Regions from separate parts of the Homo sapiens genome. Here regions 1 and 2 are each reported to be linked to region 3. The links are microRNA targets in miRTarBase. Many come from high-throughput screens and were not tested one by one. Region 3 holds a microRNA gene; each other region holds the end of a gene's coding sequence.

The links. Region 3 holds the annotated microRNA hsa-miR-1-3p (UGGAAUGUAAAGAAGUAUGUAU, at 1,663-1,684, opposite strand). A microRNA usually pairs through its seed, bases 2 to 8, with sites in the 3' UTR of a target mRNA and lowers its output. Matches are read on the target gene's strand: a 7mer-m8 pairs with bases 2 to 8, a 7mer-A1 pairs with bases 2 to 7 and ends in A, and an 8mer does both.
Region 1: the mRNA of MECR is a reported target of hsa-miR-1-3p. Seed matches in the 3' UTR shown: 7mer-A1 at 2,639-2,645.
Region 2: miRTarBase lists STXBP3 as a target of hsa-miR-1-3p. The part of its 3' UTR that is shown has no 7-base or 8-base seed match.

What each region holds. Positions count from the first base shown.
Region 1 is chr1:29,190,354-29,194,353 of GRCh38, forward strand. MECR (mitochondrial trans-2-enoyl-CoA reductase) reads right to left here. Exons shown (of 10, transcript NM_016011.5): 10 at 2,304-3,826. The coding sequence ends at 3,669. Among named protein-coding and RNA genes, the nearest start is that of SRSF4, 10 kb to the left of the region's middle.
Region 2 is chr1:108,808,346-108,812,345 of GRCh38, reverse strand. STXBP3 (syntaxin binding protein 3) reads right to left here. Exons shown (of 19, transcript NM_007269.4): 19 at 2,823-3,563. The coding sequence ends at 3,469. Among named protein-coding and RNA genes, the nearest start is that of AKNAD1, 47 kb to the left of the region's middle.
Region 3 is chr20:62,551,837-62,556,034 of GRCh38, reverse strand. MIR1-1 (microRNA 1-1) reads right to left here and starts at 1,729; the gene lies at 1,659-1,729. MIR1-1HG (MIR1-1 host gene) reads right to left here. Exons shown (of 4, transcript NR_171007.1): 2 at 2,370-2,570.

The sequences.
Region 1 (4,000 bases), not on the chromosome of region 3:
AAAACAAAACAAAACAAAACAAAAAAAAACCGTAGTCAAAGATGGCTGGGTAAACTCCAGGAATCATGTCTGTGTACCACAGCTATAAGGAGGGTGGAAGGGGAAGGGGAAGAAAAAGGTACAGGATGCAGGCCTGCTATATTTTAAAGAGGTTCCTGGGCAGGGCGCAGTGGCTTACACCTGTAATCCCAGCACTTTGGGAGGCAGAGGCCAGCGGATCACCTGAGGTCAGGAGTTCGAGACCAGCCTGTCCAACATGGTGAAACGCTGTTTCTATTAAAAATAACAAAAACTAGCTGGGCGTGGTGGCAGGTAATCCCAGCTACTCGGGAGGCTGAGGCAGGAGAATCACTTGGACCTGGGAGGTGGAAATTGCAGTGAGCCGAGATTGCACCACTGCACTCCAACGTAGGTGACAGAGCAAGACTCCATCATCTCTCCAAATAAAAAAAAAAAAAAAAAAAAGAGGTTCCTAAGAAACTGACGCCTAACACCTCTGCTTACATCACTTGCGGGGGCAGATCTTGTTAGCTGCAAGGGATGCAGAGAAACAGTGTTTATTCCGGCCTGCCATGTACCCACCTAAAAGTTGTAGGTTTTAATTCTCAGGAAGAGAATGGAGAAAATGAGACAGTTCTAACATAAATACCCTGTCTCTGTAACTGCCTAATCTGCTCTCTTCGTCTGTAATGCTTGTCACCCTTCCCTGAATAAATTATAATCATCCTTTGAAGACCAGCCCAAATGTCACCTCCAGACCCCTAAAGGTACAAGGAATCATTGCCTTCACTGTTCTCAGGCATTCTGCACGTTCCTCCAGATCTTGAAGCGTGGTGTTACAAACATTCCTGTATGCCTGCTCTTAGAGTGGGCACCAGGGGCCTGCTCCTTCACCAGGACTCAGGCTCACCACTCTCCCTAAACCCCAACCTTATGGATTCCCCTTGAAGAATCCTATTTTTTTTTTTGAGACAGAGTCTCTCTCTCTTGCCCAGGCTGAAGTGCAGTGGCGTGATCTCAGCTCACTGCAACCTCCGCCTCCCAGGTTCAAGTGACTGTCCTGCCTCAGCCTCCTGAGTAGCTGGGACTACAGGCATGTACCAGCACGCCTGTCTAATTATAGGTGTGAGACACCTCACCTGGCCTAAAGAACCTAATCTTAATTTTACTCCTGTGGCCTCTGGCAGCCTTCCCTCCTTCTAAGGCTTTTTTCACTTGCCTGCACTGATCATCTGTACAATCACTTGTCCCACTAACCTAGAGGACAGGGACCAGGAAAGAGTTGGGGCTGATCTTGAGCCCAGAAGGTGGCAAATATTCCCCAGAGGGCAATGCAGACCTTTCCCAGCCCCAGGCTGAAGCTGAGTCCTTTTTTCCAGCGGACATAAAAGATGCTTCCAAAGAAAAGATGATTATGCTGGGAGTCCATGTTCAAACTGGCATGCAATTAAACCTTCTGGCCGGGTGTGGTGGCTTACGCCTGTAAACCCAGCACTTTGGGAGGCCGAGGTGGGTGGATCACGAGGTCAGGAGTTCAAGACCAGCCTGGCCAACATAGTGAAACCCCATCTCTACTAAAAATACAAAAATTAGCCAGGTGTGGTGGCATACACCTGTAGTCCCAGCCACTCGGGAGGCTGAGGAAGGAGAATCGCTTGAACCCAGGAGGTTGAGGCTGCAGCGAGCCAAGATCGCCCACTGCACACCAGCAAGGGCAACAGTGTGAGACTTCGTCTCAAAAAAAAAAACAAACATTCCGAGCCAGTTTTTTCCATATTGCTCCACTGCCTAAAATCCCTTGGTGCCTCCCTAGGGCTTCAGGGTAAGCCCTGACATCATGGTCCTTTGTGATCTGTACCTCACCCATGTCTCCCACCTCAGTTCCCACATTTCCCCCACGTCTAAGGCAGCAGCTACACTTGACTGCAGTTCCCTGAGTGCCAGGCTCTCAGGCCTCTAAACTCTCATGTGCTGTTGGCTTTGCTTGGTACGCAGTTTCCTGCTCGGTTTTCAAGACTGGCTGTGGGAGACACTTCCTCTAGGAATCCTTCCTTGATGCCCTCGGGCAGAACTGGGGCCCCTGTGTGTCCTCTCAAGGCCCTCTGAACACCTCCATGTCAGTGACCTCATCATTATACTATACTGGTCAATCTTGCACTAGGCTAAGCAACCTGAGGGCCAGCAGCACTTCTTTCATTGGTATCCTTAGCTTTGGGCACACACTAGGCACTCAATAAATACGTCCTGAATGAGGCTCCTGAGTGCAGGGTACAGAGGGCCAGGTGATAAGGGAGACACCCTGAAGCCTCTGTTCTTTGCTTTGAGCAAATGAATCGTGAAGCAAATACCAAAAAGTCACGTCAAGCTCTTCTCTCGGCCTGAATAAAGCTCACTCATTTGTGAGAGCCCACCTTCAAACTTCACCTCAAGGAAGCATACCCCTGTCCCTGGGGCCTAGGGCAAGATCTTTATTCTGCTCTTACAGCACCCCACATATCTTCTTTACAGCATTAGTCACTATGGTAATTACTGTGAGATTGTTTAATGCACGGTTTATCAACGACCTCATGAACATTGAACATTTGGGGCTAGATTTTTTTTTTTTTTTTGATATAGGGTCTTGCTCTGTTGCCTAGGCTGGAATGCAGTGGCATGATCATGGCTCACTGCAGTCTAGACCTCCCAGGCTCAGGTGATCCTCCCACCTCAACCTCCCGAGTAGCTGGGACTACAGGTGCACAGCACCATACCTGGCTAATGTTTGTATTTTTTGTAGAGATGGTGTTTCACCACGTTACCTAGGTTGACCTTGAACTCCTGGGCTCAAGTGATCCGCTTGCCTTGGCTTCCCAAAGTGCTGGGATTACAGGTGTGAGCCACCGCGCCAGGCCTTGGGTAATTCTTTGTTGCAGTAGACTGTTCTGTGTCCTGTGGTGGGTTTAACAGCAGCACTCACTCTGCCTGCTAGATGCCAGTAGCAACCTCCTTCATAAGCTGTGATAGCCAGAAATATCCCCAGACATTGTCAAATGTCTCCTGGGGGTAAAATTGCCTCTGGTTGAGAACCACTGGTATATTGTCTATGTCTCCAGTTAGAAGGGCAGTTCCATGAGAGTGAAGACCCCACGTCCAAGTTCCTCAGGGCCCTGATGACCTCAGCCTGGCATTCACTCTTCCATGCAGCTGATCCTCCCCAAGCCCTGGACTGGGCCGCAGGCTACCTGAGAAGCACATCAAAGCGTTTGTTCTACAGGACCCTCGTCTGTGGGCTTGTGCAGCTTGGGGCCAGGGATGGTGGCCTACTGGCCTTTGCACTGCCAGTACCCACCCAGGCTTTGCTTTCAGGGTGGTCAGAAAATGATTACTGGGGGAACACATGACAGAAAAGCAGGAAGGGGGCCTCTTGGTGCTGTGAGCTGACCAGTGCACAGTGTTGGTCCTTCTCGACAGGGATGACTTCTACTTTTTGGAAGGGAGAGTTCAGACTTTATTAGATACCTTAAGGCTGGCCCTGGGGAAAACCGTGGCTGGCTTCACCATCCTCCTAATAGGAAGAGGCAGTGAGGAGAACAGTAGTCTGGGGAAGGTGGGAGCCCCAACTGAGGGGCCTGCACCCAGCCCCTCAGATCCGCCTCCCCTCCCATGTCACTCCAGCTCTTTTGGGATGATCACATGGTGAGAATCTGCTTTGAAGATATGAAGGGCTTCATGGAGGCTTCCAAGGCAGACTGGTAGTCCTGCAGCGGGACCTGGGAGCAGGCAGGGGCTGTGAGCTGGCCTCGGCGGATGAGATCGCACAGTGTGAGGATCAGCTCCTTGAACTGGTCTGCGGGAGGTTGGAGGAAATCAGACAAGAGAACAGCAGCTGGGGCTTGGTGAGATGTGGCACGGGGCTGCCCTATGGGCAGGAGCTGGCACCAAGCTCCAATAAAGCCTTGAGAGTCCTGGCTGTGCCAAGGATAGGGTGGCTGTGGAGGCAGCCTGGTCCCTGCCTGTCTTT
Region 2 (4,000 bases), not on the chromosome of region 3:
CCACCTCCTTGGTTCAAGCAATCCTCCTGCCTCAGCCTCTTGAGTAGTAGCTGGGATCACAGGTACGTGTCACCACACCCAGCTTTTTTTTTTTTCCTTTTTTTGTAAAGATGTGGTCTCACTTTTGGAATATTCATAGAACGAAAAAAAAAAAAAAAAGATGTGGTCTCACTATGTTGCTCAGGCTCGTCTCAAACTCCTGGGCTCAAGTGATCCTCCTGCTTTGGCCTGTAATTGCTAATTCTATGGGGGAAAAAAAATCAGCTTATACAAGGAATTTATGTGAGATGACGTCTTATGGCTTCAAATTCATAAGAGATTTTGTAAACAAAGGGTCTCTGCAATTCAAAGCTTAACATATATGTGAAATACAGGACTCAAAACATCCGATATCAGTGTGATCAGGGTAAAGTGGTCACTGAGATGTCAAGTGATCAAATGAATAAACAGTCCAGTGTTTGCTGTCATCACACTCTTAGTTCCATTTGTTCCAGGCCATTGGATTAATCTAAATACCTATTCCACACATGTTCTGACCCTGGAGAGGGAGTTACTGAGGCACACAAAGATCTCAGATAAAATGCAGACACCAAAAACTAATCCTCTTACTGGAGATATATTGTTTTCATGCGTAGTTTGCAAAGAGGGCTGTTTATTGTGCCAGGCCCTTCCTTTCCATGCACTCATCCACACCAAGTTACATCCATCTCTTTGTGTCGGTTTCCTCAGCTTTAAAATAAAGATGATAATCACAGTACCTATGCTCACAGGAATACACGAGAAGATGGAATGAATTAATAATAGAAAGCACTAAGTAAGCATTTGTATATTATTACTTTATTATCAATACTTAGTAAAGTTGTAAGATTAACATATCAAAAGTTGGCCAGGCACAATGGCTCACACCTGTAATCCCCACACTTTGGGAGGCTGAGAAGGAGGATTGCTTAAGCCCAGGAGTTTGAGACCAGCCAGGGCAACACAGTGAGACTGTCTATACAAAAAAACAAAAACAAAAACAAAAAAACCCAAAAATTAGCCATATGTGGTGGCCCATACCTGTAGTCCTGGCTACTTGGGAGGCTGAGGCAGGAAGATCACTATCGCCCAGGAGTTCAAAATTCCAGTGAGCTATGATCACATGACTGCACTCCAGCCTGGGTAACATAGCAAGACCCTGTCTCTATTTAAAAAAAAATAAATAAATTTCTATGTGTAAAAAACCATTTGAAAATAGTAGAAGATTCAACCCACAAAGGAACTACAAAAATATTTTGACAATGTGCAGTAACTATATGAAGAAAATGAAGATTCTGAAGGTTATGAAGATTTAAATGAAAAGACATTTCACATTCCTGAATATCAAAGTTTCAATATTATAAAAGATGTTGATTTTTCCTAAGTTAACCTAGGAACAATGCAAATCCTATGAAAATACCAAAATGGCTTTTTTTGGGAACTCAACAAAAGGATACTAAAATTCATCTAGAAAAATCTGATAGAAAATTTCTGAAAAATAATAGTAATTTAGGTGGATTGAATAGGAACTTCTTCCACTACATATTGAAACATACCATGAATTGAAATAGGGAAAAAGAAATACAAAACAAACTGTAGGTCATTAAAAGAGAATCCAGAAATAGACCACAATACAAATGGAAATTTAGTCTATGATAATGGTGGTATTTCAGATTAGTTGGGGAAAGAGAGATTATCCAATAGGATCTGGTATAACATCTGGCTGTTTAGAAAGGAGTGAAGCTGGACCACTATGAAATACTCCATCAAGTCAGGGTTCTGTGCAGGAAACAAACTTCTCTAGATATTTCAAGCAGAAAGGCATTTAATACAGAGAATTAGGTCGTTACAAAAATCACTGAAAAAGCAGTAGGAGCAGAAACTGGAGACCCACGATCATTTTACCATCTGTGACCCAAAGGACAGGAAGCTAGTGCTGCTGCCACAGCATTAACTCATACCCACGAAGCAGGCGACAAGACACTAAAATGTGGAGTCTGGTTGCTACAAACAATTCCTGTCTGCGGGAGATTGCTTACTGGCATAGTAGATGGCCTCTGCCTCCAAATCTTGACCAAGTGCACATCATTGGTAGAATATAAACTGTTCAGACCTTACTTATCCTAGAACCTGAAAAACTTCATGTTTAGCCTTTCATCCCCTGTGGTATGGGGTAAGGAGGCATGGGACGTCATGCCAAGTACTAAGAGACAATATCTAGCACACATTCTTACACTAAAATCAATTCCAGATGGGTGAGTTACCTGTAAAAAAATAGAATGAATCTATCAAAAATTTATAATCCTGGAGTGTGGAAGGTATTTCTAAGTAGCATGTGAAATTCAGAAGCCAAAATGGAAAAGCGATGGATTTACTTAAATAAAAATTAAAAATGGATATCCATCAATATTTAAATGCACAAATCCCTTGACCACTGCTAGGAATTTACATTATGGAAATGTCTGTGTAAGTCTGCAAAGGTATGTACCCAAACAACGCAGCATTATTTATAAGAGCAAAACTCTGAATCAATAAAACTATGGTCTGCCATATGACAGAACACTATGAGGGCAAGTAAAAGAAGAGATTTGAAACAAAGATGTTCCCTTTGTTTAACAAAACACATCTGCAGACATATATTATCTAACCCTATATAGAGATTACGTTATTTTTGAAAAAGTCATTAGGAGTTATCTTGGTGGGAATATTACGGTAGATTCCTTTTCTTCTTTGTTACTCTAATTTAGAACTTTTAAAATTTGTAACTTTCCCCTCTCCCCTACAGAAAACACAAACCAGAATAATTTTTTAAATTCTATATTTATTTTCTCTTAGAATGTTCATGATTTTTGGTTTTCTAATTTAAACATACATGATTTCAAAATTATATAAAATTGTGTTCTTTAGAAGTATGTGGCAAAACAGTACACACTGTGAAATCACTCCATTTCTATTAATGACTGAATTATTTTACACATAAACTGAATTTTAGTTGAAAGAAAAACTACACTTAGAGGAAACAATTCTATCATACATATACATTTACAGTTTTTTACTTTTACAATCTCTTTATTTAAAATCATTCTTTCCCAAAAACTATACTTCAGCATGAGACTTTTAGATATAAGTATCCAATGGGTAATTAGTATGTACATAGGTGGCTGTGAAAAATTACCCACAACTCTAATATATTCTCCTCCAAAGGTGAAAAAATTTCCTTTTAGAAAGCACTTTAACATTTCTTCTCATCATCTACAAAGCAGCAGCAATATTTAAATTATCAAAAATGACAAATCCAGTAATAATCATAAACAGTTCCTTAAGAAATGTATTTGAAAAGCCATTATTCCATAAAATATTTACATTGTTTAAATTACATGACAGCAACATTTTCTTTCTATTTTAGTTCAACATATTAGTAAGAATCTCTAAACCCTCCAAAAAGAAATGCTATTCATCTTTAATTAAGGAGACTTTATCCTTGGGTTTATTCAGCATCTTTATATCATCCAACAGCTTTTTGGGTGTTAAAACATGTGTAGAACCTGGTAGGAGAAAAGAGAATTTTTCAGAGGCCAGCAGTTAAATCAATTTTCCTTCGCTTAATATAATGTGTTGTCCTTCAAATATGTAAAGTGCAGTAGCCTGGGGTAATGTAACAAAATTTCTGTAAGACATCTTCCTGAAATCTGCCTATGCTGCAATATTTCAATCCTTCTTCACCACTGAGCATGTTCAGTAACTTTTCAGAAACAGCGGCCATTCCTAGTGCTTTGTCTACTTTGTGCTATACGTTGGTATAATGAAGGGCAAAACGGGATTATCCTATCCTCAGCACTATAACAGTTATTGTTCAATAATAGAGATCCACTAAGCAGTGCTGCAGGTCAAGGCTTAACACACAGATCCATCGCCTCCATGGGTCAGGAGAGTTTACCTATCATTGGCTTTGACTGAAATTCTTATTTTTTAATTTTTTGTA
Region 3 (4,198 bases):
GCGGATGCTGGGCACTGACCCTCCGGGTCCAGAGGCCGAGAGGAGGCTGTGCCCGAGGTCAACACCCGCCCCCTTGCTGCTACGCCAGATGGGGCTGAGGCTGGGAGAACGAAGTTTCCAGAAGGAAGACCTGAAGGCCAGGAGCCCTGACTGCCAGGCCCTCCCCTCCAGTCACCTCGAGGCTCCCTGAGGGGTGGGAGCCACCTGAAAGCTCAGAACGGCCCCCAATCCCTTTATCCAGCGCTCCCTATGCTGGCCCCAGCTGCTCAGGTGACCTGGCTGCCCCCAGACCCAAGGCCTCCAGCCGCTGCAGGAGGGGGCTGCCTGCCTGTCCCTTCCCGCCTCATTCCTGCCGAAGGCCAGGGTGCGGGAGGTAGGGCACAGGGGCACCGCTGTGGCTGGAGCAGTGCCAAGGCAGAGAGGACACACACCCCAGAAATTAATCCTGAGGCCTGTGGCAGGGTGGGGGTGCCCAGGCAGGGACCTGGCCTCATCCCAGGTGGCAAACGCCTCCAATCTGAGACTCAGAAACGAGCCGGGCAAACGCCCCTCACACAGCAGCCCAGCCGCTGCCTAAGACCCCAGAACCCGCCGCCCATCCTCTCCTTGAAGGACCAGCACTGGGGAAAAGGGTTTCACGGACGGATCCGGACCTGCCCTCATCCCCTGGGCCCCAGGACATCCTCCCAGTCCTTTCTCGGGTCAGGACTGGGATGGCGGCAGAGCAGATGGCTCTCAGGCCCCCGACAGGTGGGGCAAGGGGCCCTGGGCCACACGCTGCTTTCTGCCAAAGCCTCACCTGCATTCACAGCAAAACATGCCTCAGGTTGGATTCGGCGGAACAGAGAGAAAGCTGAACCGGGGCTTTGGTGGGGGTACAGGTTGGGGCGGCATGAACCAGACATTTGGCAAAATCGAACGGCTCCCAGGCCCCTGGGGTGGGCTGTGGGTTCAGGGCTGCACAGACTCAGCTCCTCTGACCCTGTCCCAGGTGCCCTCGGCAGAGGAGTGGGGCCTAAGGGCAGTGGTGGCCCTGACCCTGCCCGCGTCCCCAGCATCTCGTGTGGGCTGCGCCTTCCTTGGAGGCTACATGCCTCCGAGTTCCTCTGCCTTGCCCTACAGCCGGGAGGGCTGGATGCAGGTGCAGGAGGTGCCTTCCCTCCGCAGACTCTACCATGTGCTGCCCAGCCTCTCCCTCCTTTCTGCATCCAGCCACCTGCCCTTTTCCAAACTCGCTCTTGTCTTGTGCCTCTGAGCAGTTTCTGCCCTGGCCACACGTGGCCCTTTCTGCCGGCTGATGGCCTCTTCCAGGATGGCCATCAGTGGAGCCCCCAGAGCCGCCGCCACCACTCCGTGCTTTCCAGCCACGGCCCCGACCCCCCAGCCCTCACCAGCCCCGCGCTGGACCCCGCGCCTGCCGGAGGCCGCCTCCCCTCTGCCGCAGTCAGCAAGCTGAATATTTAATGTCTGGTGAGCACTTCCACCTGCTGACACAGGCAAAGTGACAGAACAATGCTGGCGGGGACACGACCGTCCACCAACGCCCAGGCAGCCTGCCGCCCCAGCCTCACCCCCACCACAGCCGCCTGGCTGGCTGTCGGCCGCGGCGGCCCCCGTGGTGTGGAGTGCCCCTCAGTGCGGCGAGAGAGGTCCCGGCCTGAGATACATACTTCTTTACATTCCATAGCTTAGCAGGTCCATATGGGCATATAAAGAAGTATGTTTCCCAAGCAGGCAGTCTGCATGCAGTTCCAAGACCCCGGGACGCCGCCCCGGTAGAAGCTGACCCCACTGCGATGTAGAGAAGGCAGCTCAGAGGCAGTGTAACTTCTTCCCTGGAGTCTACTGCCGGAGCCCTCTCTGTGTGAGCAGGACAGCCTTCCTGCCACTGCTGCCTGGTGTCCAGCCACCCCCAGGGGCCCAGGACTCCCTGCCCCCTTCTGACCTCGGCGCCCCTCCATCCCTGAATCCATCTCTCTCTGTCTGTCTCACACACTCACACGATCCAGAAAGGCAGAAGTGGACAGTGAGCCCCAGAAAGTCTCGAGCGCCTGTCCCTGGCCCCAGCAGTAGCTCGGTTTTGCGTCCATGGAAGAGACAGGCTGCCCCTCCACCCTCACCCCAGAGCAGGGAGGCATCATCCATGTCCCAAACTTTCAAAGCCAACACTTTCCTGTCCCCCTGGGTCACCTCATCCCAGCCAAGCCCAGAGAGGGCTGGGTGGAGAGAGGAACCTTGGGGGGCGCCCTGCCCAGCACCCCACTCGCAGGACCAGCCTCCTCCTTCTCCGGGAGCTGGACAACTCCTTGCTCCTGAGGCCAGACGAGGAACTGCAGACCAGAGACCCGAGAGGTGTCCTGGGGGCTTACCTGGGCATCTGCTGGTTTCCTGGGCAGGTCCCTGGTGAAGGCTGCCTCCCGGGACCCCGTATCCATGAGGAAGGGCTCAGCACCTCTCTCCGAAGATGCAGGCGAGAAAGACGATGCTTGGAGGAGTCCAGGTTCCCAGAGGGTGGTCAGGATCTCCTGAGAGGCCGTCCACTAGGGGGGCAACTCCCTAGGTGCCTCAGCCTGGCCACAGCAGACACCCAGTGGGCGAGGGAGCGTCGCTCCCCCGGTTCTCTCCCTCCTTCTCTCGCTCTTCTTCACCCTCTCCCCCGTCCCCGCCTCGCAGCGTCACCACCCTGAACCGCCGCGCAGTGCGGCCCACCTGAAGCGGCAGCTGCGCAGAGCCAGCAGCTTACATGGGCACCGGGGGTCAGCAGCCACCGTCACCTGCCCAGCGCCACTGCCGTGGCACCCCCGGGAGGCTGGTCCCACACCTGGCTCTTTGTGGCCAGCCGCCCAGCCTCCACCAGCCCCTGATCAATACCAATTTACAGTCAAATGCAGGGGGCCGCCTTCCTGTTAATGAATTTCCCGGTGCTCACCAGCTCCTAATGAGCCTGTTAAAGAGGGTTTAAGTAAACTTAGCGAGTGGCAAACTAAGCACTTTGGAATACTTAATTGTATCGATATGTTTTTCATTGCGTTTAAAAATGTCTCTGAGTGGGAAGCAGAGGCTGCCTCCTTCCCTGCCAACTTCTATGACCAGCCGTGAAGCCAGACTCTGAAAAATGTGGAGAAAGAGCCAGAAGGAGACCAATGGGACCTCAAGGTTAGGCCCTCACCAGCAGGAAGGGAAGCCGCCCCGAACCTGCTGGGAGCGGGGAGAGGAGGAGGAGGAGGAGGAGGAGGCCTGCAGGGTTTCGAGGCCTCGCAGTGGCCCAGGGCGAGCCTGGCACGTGCGGTGGTGAGAGGTGGAAAGAAGGCTTTGCAGGTGCCTGGGGGGGACGGGGGCCAGGGAGGCGCCAGTTGGGGGTGCAGGCCGGGCACAGACACAGGAGGCTTGCTAAGCGGTGGGGTCCAGCTGGGCCCTGGCCCCTGTCCTGCCACTGACCCTGGCGTGGGGTGGGACAGCAGCCCCGGGACATGAAAGGACCTCCCGTTGTCCTCATCAGGAAGAGAGGTCCAACATGACTCTGTTGCTCCTCCAGGCAGCCCGTCCATGCGAGGGGACAGCCCGGAGCGAGTTGGTTCTCTCTTACCACCCAGGGCAGGGCAATGTCTCCGCAGAGCCTGCAGTGTGCAGAGGCCACTGAGCATGCTGTGGCTGTGTGGCAGTGGGTCTGCAGCTGGGCATGGCTGGGTTGGAGTTTCACGTGGGGGTGGGTGGGGGCGGGGGGTGGGGGTTGTGCTTAAGGCTCTGGAGGCATCCCCTCTACAAAGGAAGGAGCAAATGGCAGACAGAAGCAGAAGCTGATGTCCCATTTCCACGTAGCTGCTGTGATTTATCATTTTCACGTAGCCAAGGATACAAAAAGGGCACCCGACACCGCAGCCTGAGCTTCAACTTCGGGGGCACCTGGGTTCCGCCGCTCATCTGTGCCCTCCCAAGACCTCCGCAATAACCGTCCCCGGAGTCCAGGGAAAAGGCCTCCTCAACGTCCCCAGCTCCCTGGCACATGAGCTCTCAGAGCCTGGGACACTCCCGCAGCCTGGCTCAAGCCCCCACGACCTGTGAGGCATTCATCTGGACGGGGTCTGGGGGTCAAGGGGAAAGCTGGGAGTCCCAAAGGGCAGGAGAGTCACCCCAGACCCAGCCAGAGTCCACAGGACTTCTGCCCACTCACAAATGAATTGTAGTCACTTTTCAAAAA